Homo sapiens: one gene and its partner. The protein of the gene in region 2 interacts with the protein of the main gene of each other region in a pairwise test. Each region holds a gene or a part of one and is shown on either strand. Other genes may lie near its edges.

Region 1 (8,524 bases), on a different chromosome or scaffold from region 2:
GCAATTCTCCTGCCTCTGCCTTCCAAGTAGCTGGAATTACAGTTGCGCGCCACCACACCTGGCTAATTTTTTTGTATTTTTAGTAGAGATAGGGTTTCATCATGTTGGCTGGGCTGGTCTCGAACTCCTGACTTCAGGCGATCTGCACACCTTGGCCTCTCAATGTGCTGGGATTACAGGCGTGAGCCACCGCACCTGGTCTCCAAACCCCTTTTTGAAGAAGCCTCCCATCCAGCCACAGTGCTTCACTGGGATGGGCCCCTCCCTCTCTGACATTTACCATATTTAACACTTTTTTTTTTTTTTGAGACAGGGTCTTGCTTTGTCGCCCAGGCTGGAGTGCAGTGGTGTAATCATGACTCACTACAGCCTCAACCATCTTTACTCAAGCAATCCTCCTCCTGCCTCAGCCTCCTGAGTAGCTGGACTCCAGGTGTGTGCACCACCACGCCTGGCTAATTTTTGTGCTTTTGTTTTGTTTTTTTGAGACGGACTTTTGTTCTTCTTGCCCCAGCTGCAGTGCAATGGCGTGGTCTCAGCTCACTGCAACCTCTGCCTCCCAGGTTCAAGTGATTCTCCTACCTCAGCCTCCTGAGTAGCTGGGATTACAGGTTCCCGCCACCACACCTGGCTAATTTTTGCATTTTTAGTAGAGATGGGGTTTCACCATGTTGGCCAGGCTGGTCTCGAACTCCTGACCTCAGGTGATCCACCCGCCTCGGCCTCCCAAAGTGCTGGGATTACAGGCATGAGCCATCATGCCCGGCCTCATTTTTGCATTTTCGTACAGACGGGGTCTCCTTATGTTGCCCAGGCTAGTCTCAAACTCCTGACCTCAGGTGATTCACCCGCCTCAGCCTCCCAGAGTGCTGGGATTACAGGTGTAAGCCACATTTAACATTTTCTAGAGAAAGGGTTCTACTATGTTGCCTAGGCTCATCTCAAACTCCTGGTCTCAAGCAATCCTCCCACCTTGGCCTCCCAAAGCATCGGTATTACAGGCCAATGAGGTCGAACTCCTGACCTCAAGCAATCCACCCACCTCGACATCCCAAAGTGCTGGGATTCCAGGCATGAGCCACCACGCCCGGCCCCGTGGCACATTTTCCTTCCGTGGCTTTTCTTCTTGAGGTCACGTGCTCCCAGGAGCACAGAGAGCTCTGGGGTCTTCCTGGACACTACCTCTGCTGTGATGAAGAAGGAGGGCCTTGGCAGGCCACCTGAGCTGCGTTTCCTGACCCTGTCCCCAGTGACAGCTGCGGCCACGATCCAAAAGAGAACATGAAACAGTGACCGTAAAAGTAAAGGCAACACTCTTTTTTTTTTTTTTCTTTTTTTACTTATTTAAAAAGGCCTTGGTGGCAGGAATATAGTGTAAAAATCATTGGAAAAACTAAAAGGCATCGATACATATCCGAATATACATTTTGTACATAAATTACATTTCCTTTAGTCTTTCTGAGTGAGGTCCTGATTCAGTACTGAGGTCTAGTAATTAAGAGGTCCCGGGAGCTGCACGTTCAGGCCGGCATAGTCCACCATGTACATTGGCCATTGCTAGAGAGAGGGACAAAGGGACTGGATTAGGACTCCAGGTGATGCGGAACAAACCCAAAATGCTTAGTTCTGCTTTTGGAAGAGCTTTCTCAGAGGCTATTTATTTATATTTTTTATTTTTTTGAGATGGAGTTTCACTCTTCTGCCCAGGCTGGAGTGCAGTGATGCAATCTCGGCTCACTGCAACCTTGGCCCCGCGGGTTCAAGCGAGTCTCCTGCCTCAGCCTCCCGAGTAGCTGGGATTATAGGCGCCCGCCACCATGCCCGGCTAATTTTTCTATTTTTAGTAGAGACGGGGTTTTGCCATGTTGGCCAGGCTGGTCTTGAACTCCTGAGCCTCAAGTGATCCGCCTGCCTCGGCCTCCCAAAGTGCTAGGATTACAGGCGTGAGCCACCACACCCAGCCTATTTATTTATTTTTGAGATGGAGTCTCGTTCTCTTGCCCAGGCTGGAGTGCAATGGGACGATCTTGGCTCACTGCAGCCTCAATCCCCTTGGGCTCAAATGATCCTCCTGCCCCAGCCTCCCAAGTAGCTGCGACCACAGGCACGTGCCACCATGCCTGGCTAATTTTTTTTTCTGAGACAGTGTTTCACTCTTGTTGCCCAGGCTGCAGTGCAATGGCGCGACCTCGGCTCATTGCAACCTCTGCCTCCCAGGTTCAAGCGATTCTCCTATCTCAGCCTTCCAAGTAGCTGGGATTACAGGCATGAGCCACTATGCCCCACTTTGCCCGGCTAATTTTGTATTTTTAGTAGAGATGGGGTTTCCCCGTGTTGGTCAGCCTGGTCTCAAACTCCTGACCTCAGGTGATCCACCCGACTTGACCTGCCAAAGTGCTGGGATTACAGGCGTGAGCCACTGCACCCGCCAGCCATGTCTTTTCATGTCTCCAGCTCTGGTGCGGCTGAAGGGTGTGGGCAGGTGGACCTCAGCCGGCCCATCTGCCCAGCGAGGATGTGAATTCCTGCCTGAGTGCCTGTGAGTACCCCACGAGAAGGATGGGCTACCTCTTGGGTGAGACAGGTGGATGCATCTATAACCCCCGAGGCCGGAAGGTCCCCACTCAAAGCCCAGTGCCTCCCCGTCCCCTGGGCCCACATCCCAGAGTAGACGGCCCTGCCAGACAGAGGGGTGAGGGCCACAGAGATGAGTGCCGGAGTCCAAATCGGTGCAACTTTACCACGAGTGAGATCTGGTTGGCCGATGCCACTGAATCCGGGTTAGAGGACGAGGAAGAGGAAGACGAGGAGGAAGAGGAGACGGAATTTCCTTCCGAGACCCGCTTTCTCTTGCGCTTGGGAATGCTGCTGTCTTTGGCTGGAAGGAGGGGAAAAGGCTGTTGACACTGGAAGCTGAGGCTTTTCTGTCTCAGCCTCCTGAGCTCCCTGGAAAAGTGCTCTGTCTTAAGGTTTCGAGTCCCCCTTTCAGGATTTCAGGCTCCTGATCCCCTGGGGGTCAGGGCCCACCTGTCCAGAGCCCACATGTCCAGCCTCCTTCCCAAAGCAAGCCCGAGGGCCCACTCTCCCCGGCCTCCTGCTCTTGCTGGCCTGCCTGCCTTTGCTAACACCGTATCCTCATCCCCATGTGTCCCTCCTCCTCCCCAGCAAGCTCACCCCTTAGGCCCTAGGTCCTCTCTCTTTCTGGTTTTTTGAGATGGAGTCTCGCTCTGTCACCCAGCCTGGAGTCCAGTGGCGCGATCTTGGCTCACTGCAACCTTTGCCTTCTGGGTTCAAGCGATTCTAGTGCCTGAGCCTCCCAAGTAGCTGGGGTTATAGGTGTCTGCCACCACGTCCAGCTAATTTTTTTGTATTTTGAGTAGAGATGGGGTTTCACCGTGTTGGGCAGGCAGCTCTTGAACTCCTGACCTCAAGTGATCCATCCACCTCGGCCTCCCAAAGTGCTGGGATTATAGGCATGAGCCATCGAACCTGGCCTATATTGTTTTTTAGGGTCTCACTCTGTTGCCCAGGCTGGAGTGCCATGGTGCAATCGTAGCTCACTGCAGCTTCCAAGTCCTGGGCTCAAGCAATCCTCCCACCTCAGGTTCCCGAGTAGCTGGGACTATACGTGCGCGCCACCATGCCTGGCTAACTTTTTGTATTTCTGCATCATTATGTTGCCCAGGCTGGTCTCCAATTCCCAACCTCAAGCAATCCTCCTGCCTCAGCTTCCCTAAATGCTGAGATTACAGGCATGAGCCACCGTGCCTGGCTCATGGCAACAATATTAATCGCATTCTCAGTTTCTGAGTATTTTCTGGGTGCTGGGCACTGTGCTAAATGCTTTGCACATTGTCTGCTGGGATCCTCCCAGCAACCCTCCAAGATCCTATTCACATTTCACTCACGAGCACCCGAAGGGGCAGGGCTGTTAAAGGACTTTCTCCAAGGCCAAGTCTGCGTGGCTCCGGAGGCCACATTCTTTCCTGGGCTCTTTAAGGCTGTGAGGGGATGTGGGACCCCAGGAGAGGCTCTGGGAGTTCTGGGGAGGCTGGAACTGCAGGCTAGGTTGTCCAGGGAGGGTATAAAGAGGACCTGGGGCCAGGCGCAGTGGCTCACACTGGTAATCCCAGCACTTTGGGAGACCAAGGTGGGTGGATTGACTGAGGTCAGGAGTTCGAGACCAGCCTGGGCAACATGGTGAAGGTTGAAACCCTGTCTCTACCAAAATACAAAAAAATTGTATTGCTATGGTTATCACTAATGTATGGTGGTCCTGAGTGGAGAGTTCACAGGTCCAAGTAGACAGGCAGTGCCCCAGTGAAAGAAACTCTGGTTTAGAATCAGAAGTCCTAAGTTCAAATTTCACTGTGGCCACTTACTATTATCACTGTGTGAATCTGGGAAAACTGATGAACCTCTCTGAGTCAAATGGGGAAACCAGTGTGATGTGAGACTCAAAAAACACCGCATGCATAAAAGAACCCAGCACCTAGTTCAGCACGGAGGAGGGGTCAGCAGGTGTTCTGTGGTTGCTGGATTAACTTGAGGTGAAGATGTAAGACTTTGAGCAGCACGTCCTGATTGGATGGATTACTGCATGGAAACCTCGCCCAGCCCAATAAAGAAGGGCTTTTATTGTCTTTTTGAGACAAGGTCTCACTCTGTCACCCATGCTGGAGTGCAGTGGTGTGGTCTTGGCTCACTGCAACCTCCACCTCCCAAGCTCAAGTGATCCTCCTGCCTCAGCCTCCCTACAGGTGCACACCACCCTGCCTGGCTAATTTTTTGTAGAGACGGGGTCTCTGTATGTTGCCCAGTCTGGTCTTGAACTCTTGGGCTCAAAGAATTCTCCTGCTTCAGCCTCCCAAAGTGCTGGGATTACAGGCGTGAGCCACTGCACTCAGCCCACCGGAAGGGTCTTAATGACACAGAGTAAGGGCAGGCTGGGTCCATGGGGCAAATGTCTCTTCAACTGGTGGAGAAGTCAGAAACTGGGGGTCTGTGGTGAGGCATAGAGACCCTGCGAAAGAGAAGACCCTGGAGGCAGGAGGAGCCCAGGCTATGAGTCAGAGGGATTTTTGTGGGAGATTCCACATGAAAAAGAAGTCAGAGGCTGCCCCACCCTCTGTCTCAGACTGGTCCATGGGCTGTGGCCATCCTTGAATCACCATGAGAGATGGCCACATTGGAGGGAGTGGTGGATGTGGGTGACAGTATCCACCCTCTGGGCATCTGTCCCAAATCCTCCTGAGGCTTTCATGTGGCCTTCTGTGTCTCTGCCATGTTTTGTTTTGTTTTTTTTTGAGACAGAGCCTGGCTGTGTTCCCCAGGCTGAAGTACAGTAGTGTGATCTCAGCTCACTGCAACCGCCGCTTCCTGGGTTCAAGCAATTCTCCTGCCTCAGCCTCCTGAGCGGCTGGGATTACAGGCGCCCACCACCACCCCCGGCTAATTTTTTTTTTTTTGGATTTTAGTAGAGACAAGGTTTCACCATGTTGGCCAGGCTGGTCTTGAACTCCTGACCTCAGGTGATCCACCTGCCTCCCTGCCTCAGCCTCCCAAAGTGTTGGGATTACAGGCGTGAGCCACCGCGACTGGCCTCCTCTCTGCCTTTGACCTGAGAGTAAACCAAATCGCCTCCAGATCCGTGTGTTCAGTGCCAGACCTGACCCTTTTAACTGGCTCTTTTTTTTTTGGAAACAGGGTCTCACTCTGTCGCCCAGGCTGGAGCGCAGTGGCACAATCATAGCTCACTGCAGCCTCCACCTTCCGGCCTCAAGCACTCCTCCTGCCTCATCCTCTTGACTATCTGGGACAACAGGTACGCGCCACCACGCCTGGCTAATTTTTAATTTTTTTGCAGAGACGGAGGGAGGGTCTCACTTTATGGCCCAGGCTTGTGACTAGCTCTTGATGGAAGGAGGTGGCTTCTAGCTGGGCTGTGCCACCCCAGGCTGTGGAGTTCCAGGTGAACCTGGTCCTGACAGGAGTCAGGGCCTTGGGTCTCAGGTAAGGTTGTGGCGTGGACTTGCTGAATCCTATCACTGTCCCTGTTGAGCAGCCATACTGGGCCGTGTGGCCCACGGTGGTCTATGGTTCAGATGGGTGGTCCTGAGAGCAGGGTCTACACAGCATCTGACTCACTATGTGGCCTGGGCAAGTCCCTGGGCATCTCTGTGCCTCAGCTTCCCAGCTGTACAATGAGGTGGGGTAAGATTAGATCAGTATTTTTTCTTTCTTCTTCTTTTTTATTTCTTAGGAGACGGGGTCTCGGCCAGGCACAGTAGCTCACGCCTGTAATCCCAGCACTTTGGGATGCTGGGGTGGGAAGATCACTTGAGGTCAGGTGTTTGAGACCAGCCCGGCCAACATGGTGAAACCTCACTTCTACTAAAAATACAAAAAATTAGCTGGGTGTGGTGGTGCATGCCTGAAGTCCCAGCTACTCGGGAGGCTAAGGCATGAGAATTGCTTGAACTCAGGAGGCGGAGGTTGCAGTGAGCCAAGATCGCAAGATTGACTCCAGCCTGAGTGACAGAGTGAGACTCTGTCTTGAAAGAAAAAAAAAAAAAAAAAAGGCCGGTAGCAGTGGCTTACGCCTGTAATCCCAGCACTTTGGGGGGCCGAGGCAGGTAGATCATGAGGTCAGGAGTTCGAGACCAGCCTGGCCAATATGGAGAAACCCCGTCTCTACTAAAAATACAAAAAAATAGCTGGGCGTGGTGGCAGGCGCCTGTAATCCCAGCTACTTGGGAAACTGAGGCAGGAGAATCACTTGAACCCGGGAGTCGGAGGTTGCAGTGAGCCGAGATCACACCACTGCACTCCAGCCTGGGCGACAGAGTGAGACGCTGTCTCGGAAAAAAAAAAAAGAGATGGGGTCTCATTCTGTCATCCAGGCAGGATGGCATAATCATAGCTCACTGCAGCCTTAAACTCTTGGGCTCAAGTGATCCTCCAGCCTCAGCCTCCTGGGACTACAAGTGCCTACTACCATGCCTGGCTAATTTTTAGAAAAACCTTTTTGGTCCACAGCCATACCACCCTGAATGCACCCGATCTTGCCTGATCTCAGAACTGAAGCAGGGTCGGGCCTGGTTAGTACTTGGATGGGAGAAAAAACTTTTTGTAGAGACAAGATCTCACTACGTTGCCCAGGTTGGTTTCAAACTCCTGGACTCAAGCAGTCCTCCCACTTAGGCCTCCCAAATTGCTGGGATTAGAGGCGTGAGCCACCACACCTGGCCAATCAGTGTTTCTTTTTCTTTTTCTTTTCGAGACAGAGTCTTGCTCTGTCACCCAGCCTGGAGTGCAGTGGTGTGATCTCGACTCACTGCAACCTCTGCCTCCTGGACTAAAGTGATTCTTCCACCTCAGACTCCCAAGTAGCTGGGACTGCAGGCGTGCACCACCATGCCAGGCTAATTTTTTTTTTCTTTTTCTTTTTTTTTTTTTTTTTGAGACAGAGTCTTGCTCTGTTGCCCAGGCTGGAGTGCAGTGGCATAATCTTGGCTCACTGCAACCTCTGTCTCCTAGGTTCAAGCGATCCTCCTACCTCAGCCCCCAAGTAGCTGGGATTACAGGCACGTGCCACCATGCCTGGCTAATTTTTGTATTTTTAATAGAGACAGGGTTTAGCATGTTGACCAGGCTGGTCTCGAACTCTTGACCTCAGGTGATCCACCCACCTCAGCCTTCCAAAGTGCTGGGATTACACGCGTGAGCCACCGCGCCCGGCCCTGATTTTTCTATTTTCAGTTGAGATGGGGTTTCACCATGTTGGCCAGTCTGGACTTGAACTCCTGATCTCAAGTGATATGCCTGCCTCGGCCTCCCAAAGTGCTGGGATTACAGGTGTGAGCCTCTGCGCCTGGCCCAATCAGTGTTTCTTAATCAGGTGCACATCATAGTCACCCGGGAGTACTTTCTCCCAAGTCCCATCATACACCTTAATCAGAACCATCATGCCAGGCGGCCCCCAGGTGCCTAGTGAAAGGTTCTGTATACCCTGCAGATGCCAGCAGAACAGAGGGGGTCTGGCCAGTCTCGGGCAATGCCTGCCTGCCTCACCACTGTTGGTCACGTGCTACCCCTCTGCTACCCAGGAGGACTCCATGATCCTCCCTGAGGCCCAGCCTGCCTCTTGTCCTTCCAGCTGACCTCATACACTCACTGGTGCTATGGCAAGGCCTCCCCTCTGCAGGGCACCTGCAGGTTTCTGGAGGCCTCTTGGGGATACCTGGCTCTGTTCATGGAGACCTCAGGCTCCCTGGGGAGGCCCCAGCGTGGAGAGGGGCTATATTTTTCTCAAGGTGGTCAGCCATCTATTGCATGCCCACCTGGACCACATCTATTTCTGCCTTTAAAAAATTTTTTTATGAAATTTTTTTTTTTTAGAGACAGGGTCTCGCTCCGTTGCTCAGGCTGGAGTGCAGTGGTACAATCATAACTCATTGCAGCCTCCAACTCCTGGTGTCTCTGCTTTTTTCTTTCTTTCTTTTTTTCTTTTTTTCGAGATGGA
Region 2 (9,324 bases):
TATAACTTCAGACTCATCTTTTTCACCCGAAATATCCTCTTCATCAGAGAGGACCAGAAAGGCTTCTTTTGGCAAACTCTCACTACTTTCTTGTTTAGATGGTGAACCAAAAGAACTTTCCATTTTCTCTTCCAAATCTGGATTTGTCTCATCGATTGGAAGGAGAGATGTTTTAGAAAAGCAAGTAAGTTCATCCTCAGAAGGTGCAAGCTTTTCCAAAATAGGAATGATTTCATCTGTCTCCATAGAGTCTGTATTTTCTAAGATATTCTCACTTTTGTTATCTTCAATAACATTTTCATTAATCGTTTCTACAAGATCTGCAGAAGTTTCATCTTCATTCTTTTCACCTTGGTCAATTTCCATACTGCTAGATATAGCATCTTCTCCAAGAGCAAGCTCTGTGATAATATCTTCCTCTACCTTCTTTTCATTTTCAGGAGGTCGATCTGAACAAATAGTTGTATCATCTGTTTCTAGAGTTTCTTCATTAGCATCAATATTATTATCAGCTTTATTTTTCTCATCCAATGAGTCTTTACTCTGAATTTGCTCTAATTTTTCATCAGCTCCATTTTTTTCAAGAAAATCATCATCTTTATTGCTACTTGGTTCTATATTGTCAATTTCAGGAACTGGTTCACAAACTGGTACAGACTTTGGTTCAAAGGTACGATCAAAGGTTGATTCAGAAGTCAGCTCATCAGAGGCCAGTTCACCAGTGGCCAGATCATCAGAGGCCAGTTCACTAGAGGATAGATCACCAGAGGCCAGATCATCAGAGGCTGGATCAGTGGAAGCTGGTGCTCCAGAAGCCAGATCAACAGAAGTTATTTCACTAGAGGCTATATCATCAGCGGCACAATCACCAGAAATGGGTTCAACAGGGACCGGTTCACCTGGGATGGGATCACTAGAGGTGGGATCACCAGAGGAGAGATCATCAGCAGTGGCATCACCAGAGGTGGCATCACCAGGGGACACATCACCAGAAGGGGCATCACCAGAGGTTGCATCACCAGAGGCAGCATCACTAGAGGAGGGCTCGCTAGAGGTGGGATCACCAGAGGTGGAATCACCAGAGGCCAGTACTCCGGAGGCTGGATCTCCGGCATCCAGATCACCAGGGGCTGGATCACCAGAAACTGGTTCAGCAGGCAGTTTAGAGACTGGTTCTGGAGTTATATTATGGGGAGACAAAGGTTCACAATTTAAATCATCATCCTGCTTGTTTTTTACATTAACACTTAGGATACAGGGTGTTTCCTTCCATTCTGCTTTACTTCCTTCAGGATCAAAACAAATCTCTTCAATGCCATTCACCTCTTCCTTGTCTTTAATGTAATCCATGTTTTCCAAAGGTGAGGTTGGGTCCAAATCTCCATTTTCATGGTTGCCATTTAACAGCTTGACATCAGTTTTCAACAGTTCTTCTTTGACCTTGTACACTGCTTCAAGTTGCTGACGATCACTCACTCTCATCGTTTTTCGAGCCTTAAAGACTTTTTTCTGAGGTTCTTCTAAACTGTCCATTCTGAATCTTTAAGAAAAAAGAGAAAGAGAGTTTAATAACTGAAACAGAAGCCACCTAATTGTAGACTTAATACAAATTGATCTTAGAAGAGATGCAAGCAGCACATTTCATGTAATGTTTAAGACATAGAAAACCTACTGCTTGTTGTATACTAATTATCATATTTACTGCATCTGTGTAATACAAAATCAAAAATGGCCATAGTCTACTAGAAAATCAACTAGAAAGTATTAGGGGGAAAAGGGACAAGTTTTTTTTTCCAATATGGAATTCACAGAGTATGGAGATGTTTAAGCAAAAAAAAGGTAGATAAAGTAAAAAAAAAAAAAAAAAAAAAAAAGTACCTGAAGAAAATGAGAAAGAAAAATAAAAGTGTAAGAACAACAGTAGGGAAATAACAGGTATAGAGATAAAGGAAAAAGGAGGAAGAATTAAGAAACATGTAAGGAAAGATTACATTTGCAACCAAGCATACTTAGATTGGCAGAACTATAAACATATTAACAAAAGATTACCATCAAGAAAGAAAATTCACAACAATGGGAGAAAATATTTGCAAATCATATGCCTGATAAGACTTTTATCTCGAATCTAGAATTTCATATCTAGAATACAGAATATATATTTATATAGAATACAGACTTTTATATCTAGAATATCTAAGAACTGCTATAATTCAATAATAAATCACCCAATTTAAAAATGGTCAAAGGACTTGAACAGACATTTCCAGAAAGAGACCCCTAAGCCAAAAGTCCATAAGCAATAAACATCATGAGACATCAGGGAAACGCAAGTCAAAACCACAATGAAATAACACTGCACACACGACAGGACGGCTACAATCAACGAGAATAATGAGTGTTGGCAAGGATGTGAAAAAACTGGAACTTTCATACAATGATAGTGGGATTGCAAATAGGTGCAGCTGCTTTGGAAAACAGGCAGTTCCACAATATGTGAAGTACAGAGTTGTCATATGACCCAGTGATTCCATTCCATTCATTTCCCAAGAGAAATGAAAACATATGTCCACACAAAAACTTGTACACAAATGCTCTATAGAGGCACTACTCATAATGGCCCAAAACTGGAAACAACCTAAATGTTCCATAACTGATGAATGGATAAATAAAATGTGCCATACCCCTACAACAGAATATCATTCAACCACAAAGGGGAATGAAGTACTGAACATGCTACTACATGCATAAACCTTAAAAATATGCTGAGTGAGAGAAGCCAGTCACAAAAGGCCACATACTGAATGATTCAATTTATATGAAATGTCCAGAGTAGGCAAATCTAGAGACAGAAAGTAAATCAGTGACTACCTAGGGTTGGAAGATTCTGGAGAAAATGAGGAGTAGCTGCTAAAGGGTACAGGATTTCTTTACAGGGTTATGAAAATGTTCTAACATTGATTATGGTGATGATTATACAGCTCTGTGAATATACTAAAAATAACTGAATTGTACTTTAAGTGGGTGAATAGTAGATATGTGGTTTTATCTCAGTAATGCCACTACAAAAAAATTTCAAAATAAATACAAAGGTTGTGTGTGTGTGTGTGTGTGTGTGTGTGTGTGTGTGTGTGTGTGTATTCTCTTTTTTTGGTAAGTTGTGCTACAGTTTTATCAATTCTATTCACTTATTAAAGTATGAACCTTTACTTGGCTGATATTTCTTGGTTTTATATCTGCTTTCTTGTTTTAATTATTTACTCTAATATTTATTATCTCTTTTCACTTACTTTTTCTTGGAAAGAGCTTAACATGTCATCCTTTTCCTTGAGATTCAAGCTTAAGTGTTATTTTCAATCTTTCTTCTTTTGTAATGTGTGCATATAAAGCTATAAATTTCCCTCTAAGAGCTGCTTTAGTTGCATCTCACATTTTAATGTGTCATTTACATTATTCTGTTAAAATATTTTCTAATTTCCATCATGATTTCTTCTTTCATCTATGACTTATTTAGAAGTAGGTTTCTTAAAAAGGTAATGAATTCTGACCAAGTGAAGCTCGCTTAGAAAAATACAAGGCTGATTTCACATTCAAAAATCAAGCAGTGTTGACCATGAACAAGCCATGATGCATTCTGACTTTATTTCATGCCCAGCAGAGTGTACAATTACGAGTTTTGCCTAAACTGAATGTCTGGTACCAGGATGTTACTGACTGAATTGTGCAGCATCCCACACCCCACATCCCCAGAAAGATATTAGTCTTAAGCCCCAGTACCTCAGAATGTGACCTTATTCGGATAGGGCCTTTACAGTGGTAATCAAGGTAATATAAGGGTACTAAAGTGAGCCCTAATCCAATACAATTGGTGTCCTTATAAAAAGGGGAAAATCTGGACACAGACAGACATGCACACTGGGAGAATGCCATGTGACAATTGAAGTTATGGTACCACAAGCCAAGCAACTACCAGAAGCTAGGAGAGAGGCCTGGAACAGATCCTTCCCTCAGCACCCTCAGAGGGAGAATGGCAATGACAACACCGTGATTTCAAATGTGTTGCCTCCAGAACTCTGAGACGATAAACTTCTGTTAAGCAAAAAAGAAAACCACAAAACAAATCAAGCTATTTAATTCACCACATAAACAGAACAGAGGGACAAAATCAACAAAGGATTACCTCAACAAATACAGAATATTCATTTGACAAAATTCAAGACTGATGCATAATTACAACTTGCCAGAAACTAAGAATACAAGGAAACTTACTCAAATCTGATAAAGGTTATCTACCAAGAAAACTAGAGATATCATGTCTGATATTGAAATAGGATCAGAAGAAAACAAGGATGTTTCCTGTAACCATTTCCTTGTTAACATCTGGCCAGTGCAATAAAGGCAAACAAAAGAGCACAAGGATGTGGTTCTGAAGAAAAACAATGTCATCAATCAATAGTAGAATAAAACAAAATTGCTTTAAGGACTAAGATGTACAGGAGGCAGGAATACTGTTTTCACATTGGATAGTCACTTACCATTACCATCACCAGTAGGAATGATATGGTAGAATACATTTGCTTTGGCCTGAGAAAGAAAGAAAAGCAGCCCCTGATGCCTGGAAACTTAACTGATACTCACAGTTAGGGCTCAATGTTGTTAATGGATCTGATGCTTACAGTTAAGCCATGCTGTTCTCTGGTTGGACATAAAACCAACTCAGAGAACATTCAAGTCAGACAAGGTCACTGTGCAACCCACAAAATTCCAAACATCCCCCCTCACTAAATGAGTGATGGCTATTTCTTTATTTTTTTTTTCTTTTTGAGACGGAGTCTCGCTCTGTCGCCCAGGCTGGAGTGCAGTGGCGTGATCTCGGCTCACCGCAAGCTCCACCTCCTGGGTGCATGCCATTCTCCTACCTCAGCCTTCCGAGTAGCTGGGACCACAGGCGCCCGCCACCACGCCCGGCTAATTTTTTGTATTTTTAGTAGAGATGAGGTTTTACCGTGTTAGCCAGGATGGTCTTGATCTTCTGACCTCGTGATCCACCTGCCTCGGCCTCCCAAAGTGCTGGGATTACAGGTGTGAGCCACCACACCAGGCCAACTTCTTTATCAATTACAGCTTTATCTTGTAATAGTCTGTCCTCCCTATATAGATAAAATTTATTGAGATACCCAAGAATAGAAGTGCCCCCACTTTCTGATGTCACCCAATCCACGATAAGGATCTACTTCCTTAATCTCTCCCCAAAATAACCCAACCTATACTATACTCAAATCCTATACTAGGTTTTTTCTAACATCCTCTTACTGATTGATGTGCCTTACAGTTTCCCCATAGTGAACATTATTTCCTCCCTGCAGCAAATAGTAAACCTAACTTTTTCAATTACAAAGGTGTTCCTGCTGGTCTTTGGCTGAAGCGCATAAAATAATAAGCCTAGCCTACTTGCTGGAAGCCAATTCAGCTTGAGATTCTAGCACTTTGTCAGAGAATTTCTAGACTGTGATACATTCTGTATTCATTCTCTCACTTTAAGCCAATTACTTAGAACATATTTCTTATTCTAGCCATTTTATTTAAATTATATAACTAAATCAACTATTTAGAAAAATTACTCTTCATTTAAACAGAAACCTTAATACAAAATGTATATATAATAATACAAAACCTTAATACAAAATTATACAAAATTTGTATAATATAATACAAAACATTATGTTAAGGGTTTTTAATTACAGACTAAAATTTCACACCTTCAAGGTTTTTCCCTTCCCATCATTACAAAGTTTTGCTAACTGCAAAATTTTCTGCAAAAGATACAGATACAATGCATTGTATTTTGCTGTCACTTTTCCTTACTAATTCCAAAACTACAAAATAATTAAGTTTATAATATAAGTAGTATAGTTACCCTTTAAGTATTTCAAAATACTGAAAGGCCATTCTTTTGAACTTTAGCCTCATAATATCCGCATTTCTCAGATATTAGATGGACAGCTGGTAGTTATTACCAATTGCATTAAAAGTATTCCTTTTAAAAAATTCATAACTTTTAATAACCCAATTAAGAACATGAACTCTTACATTAAAAGTAAGCATTCCTTTAAAAAAATTCATCACTTTTAATAACCCAATTAAGAACATGAACTCTGTAGACTGTAGACAGATTCACAGATTTGAATTCCAACTCTCCCAGGAAACCTACTGTGTGAGACTGGGCAAATTACCTAACATCAATTTCTTAGTTTTGGTTACCTTAAAAAGGGACTAATACCAACACCTGTCACAAAGGTTGCCATGAGAACTAAATGAGATTCTATACATTAAGCACTTGGAATGTAGTAAGAACTCAATAAATGGTATAACCATCACCATCTATATATTCAGGATAACGTTTTTAGGAATAAACTAAATATTCAGGATAATGTTTTTAGGAATAAACTAAAGAGTCTAAGACAAATTCCTCTTTGGTATTTTTTATATAAATTAGAAAATCCAACATGTAAACCTCACAGTTAATATTAAATTGCCACCACCAAATAATATTTAATAAAAATATATAATTCAAGAAAAGTTGATTTTATCAATAAAATTGTCATTAACTTCAGTAATAATAAAGCACTCTAAAAAGAATTATAGAATAACTACCATCCATACCCACAAGGGAGCACACTACAGCCATTTACCAGATCTTATGGGTTCTAAATATAATAAAAAACAGACAAAGCAATAAGGAAGTAACACGAACAATTAGTTCAAACTAGTTCAGCCATATCTGTACAAACCAATCAGCAGTCTGCTTTTAGAAATGTATTTTGCATTAGCGAAGCATATTTGAGAAAGATACACATTAGAGAAGGGTGTGTTACCTGCAAACAAGTTTCCATGGCTGTAATACCAGTGCAAAACACTTCCAAGGATCATTTTAGTACTGTCGCCTAGAACTAAGATGCCATTCATAAAACTATTCTATAAAATAAATGTTAGTATTTTAGGTGGCAACTCAAATCAGAAAGCTTTCACATGACTGTAATTCATTTTCACAGAAAAAAGCATTGGTATTTTACGGCAGAAGATGTCTGCCATGTCTAAAAGTAACTGCAAAACATGATGAACTAGTTTCTCCTGAAAGTATTTTTTTCATGAGGATGAGAGTCAAAATAATGTTTTTTAAGTCTCTGTATATTCAAGAACTCTGGGAAAATAATATCACTAATAAAACCTTTTTCTATAGAAATTTATATTTAAATAACCAGAGAAGGGTATGTTACCTGCAAATAAGTCTCTCTGGCTTGGAAATTTTTTTTTCAAATTTTTGGTAAATTATTTTTAAAATATTTTTAAGGAAAGCCCAACGAGCTTCTTCTTTAAATGAAAACATTACTCTCTTCTCTGCTTCATCCCCCTCCACCCACTTCTTTCTAGCAAGAGATCATAGCAATGAAACAACAAAGGGAAGCTGTTATGTCTTAGCCTACAATCTGCCTGCTCAAAAAGCTCAAGAATTTAAATGGCTGTTCAAGAGCTGCTCACAAACTCAGCCAATCAGCAGCCAGCATTCTGATTCCTGCCCAGCAACAGGAGACAGACAATAAGGTCAGAAAAACATAGTTAAACAAAAACTGTATCTGCAATACTTAAGTGTGGTTCTTTGTTTGAAATAAGTAATCTAGAACACAGTTTACATAAAACCCTAAATCCACGTAACACGCATTAAATATACCACACACATAAATGGATAAGATTTACATCTTTTATGCTATTTGCTTTAATAAATATCCATGAACATTTCAAGAAATATACATTAATATAAATTAATTTCCTACCTGAGGAATAAGTCAAACATGGACAATATACGTAAGAACATATTTTTCTATACAATGCAAAATTCAAATGTAAATTTCTTTTTAAAAATTCCATAGACCATACATATAAAATATATAAATCTAGCAAAACCTTAAATCCAGACAAGTAAAAAAAAAATCTTCATACCCATCTACCACTATTGTTACAGATTTCCGATTCCAAAAATTAATAGTATTCTGGACCCAAAGGATTACTAGGGATAGTATTATGAAGTGTTGTGCTGTCTACTGCACTGAACTGACTTAGTTTAATTCATCTAATGAAATCTAAATGTCTGATTCTGGACAACCTATATTAAGTGGTATAAGTACAATTACTACATCCTTTTCTCCTTAACTGCCTTTCGCAGCAAGTTACAAAAGGTTATATGAGATATCCTTTCAAAGCTTTATTATAAAACAAATGTGTGGATTACAAAGTAAATATTCATGAAAATTAAAGACATTTTTATTATATTACACCATTCTATAGTTCTTTAAATATAGGATTATAAAATAAAAATGGAAAATTTGTTATCAGAATTTTTTTCTCAAATTCACTACTTATTAGGTGTTCTTAATAACCAAGTTTTAAAAATAAACCTCATTTCCCCCCTTCCTTACAGATGAACCTTGTAATTTTTCAAACATACCCAAGAGGGAGCTTGCTGCAGCCATACTCTTAGTTTATATAATCTCCCCACAGGAAAAATATATCAACAGCTGCTTCAATGTTTCAGTCCTGTGAGAGAACTGAAATTCACTGTCTGATTGGCTCAAAGCCGAAATAGTCTAAAACCAATCAGACATCAGTGTCACAAACCTTGCCCAGCAACAAGGGAAGAAGATGAGGGCAAGAGCTCTATTAAAAATGCAAAGGATGTGAAAATCAAGGTGAACAATGAAATGGAAACATTAGGAATATAACTCTAGATGCTCTGTTTGAAAAACAGGTCATGGTAGGGTTTCTTTGATTAAATAAACTAGGGTCTGTACTGCTTTCCAAGAACAGACTTAACTAAGTACCACGATTGTTGGGTCAAAAAGCATATACAACACATAGACAAAACAAATGCTGTATTAATTCAAAGTAATGAATATCTGATGAAGTATACTTCAAAATAAAACTAAAGCAAAAGCTTAGAAAACATCAAGCAAAACCTTTTAAGTGGACATGGCATTTCTATCTTTGACAAAGGCATTCCAATTATATTCATGCTGTTGCCTGAGAGTACAACATTTTTCTGAATAAAAATTTCATTCATTTTTCTACTGAAAATAATTTTAATTTGAGTTTATTTTCATTAAATGGCTGAATTAAATATTAAATAATCACTTTATGCTGATAATTTCTAACCTCTTTAGAAATGCAACTCTGCTATTAGATTCTTTAAGAATCCCATTCTCAGTTGAAAACTGTATGATTTTATTTTACACTTCTAAATTTTGCTTGAGAATTTGCAATACTCTAAAAATA

What was found. Proteins that work in one complex are often made in the same cells at the same time.
Region 1: the proteins of ATF7IP (region 2) and GTF2IRD1 interact in binary tests that used the Homo sapiens proteins (3 or more experiments, as listed by UniProt).

The regions. Positions count from the first base shown.
Region 1 is NC_000007.14:74,595,398-74,603,921, reverse strand, and holds the end of GTF2IRD1 (general transcription factor II-I repeat domain-containing protein 1), read right to left. Parts: intron 7,955-8,524; exon of another isoform or gene 7,896-7,954; intron 2,879-7,895; coding exon 2,742-2,878; coding exon of another isoform or gene 2,625-2,741; exon of another isoform or gene 1,628-2,624; intron 1,558-1,627; coding exon 1,489-1,557; 3' UTR 1,317-1,488; downstream 1-1,316. UniProt on the Homo sapiens protein: May be a transcription regulator involved in cell-cycle progression and skeletal muscle differentiation. May repress GTF2I transcriptional functions, by preventing its nuclear residency, or by inhibiting its transcriptional activation.
Region 2 is NC_000012.12:14,416,125-14,425,448, reverse strand, and holds part of ATF7IP (activating transcription factor 7-interacting protein 1), read right to left. Parts: intron 8,603-9,324; exon of another isoform or gene 8,501-8,602; intron 7,482-8,500; exon of another isoform or gene 6,873-7,481; intron 6,236-6,872; exon of another isoform or gene 6,088-6,235; intron 1,541-6,087; coding exon of another isoform or gene 1,534-1,540; coding exon 1-1,533. UniProt on the Homo sapiens protein: Recruiter that couples transcriptional factors to general transcription apparatus and thereby modulates transcription regulation and chromatin formation. Can both act as an activator or a repressor depending on the context.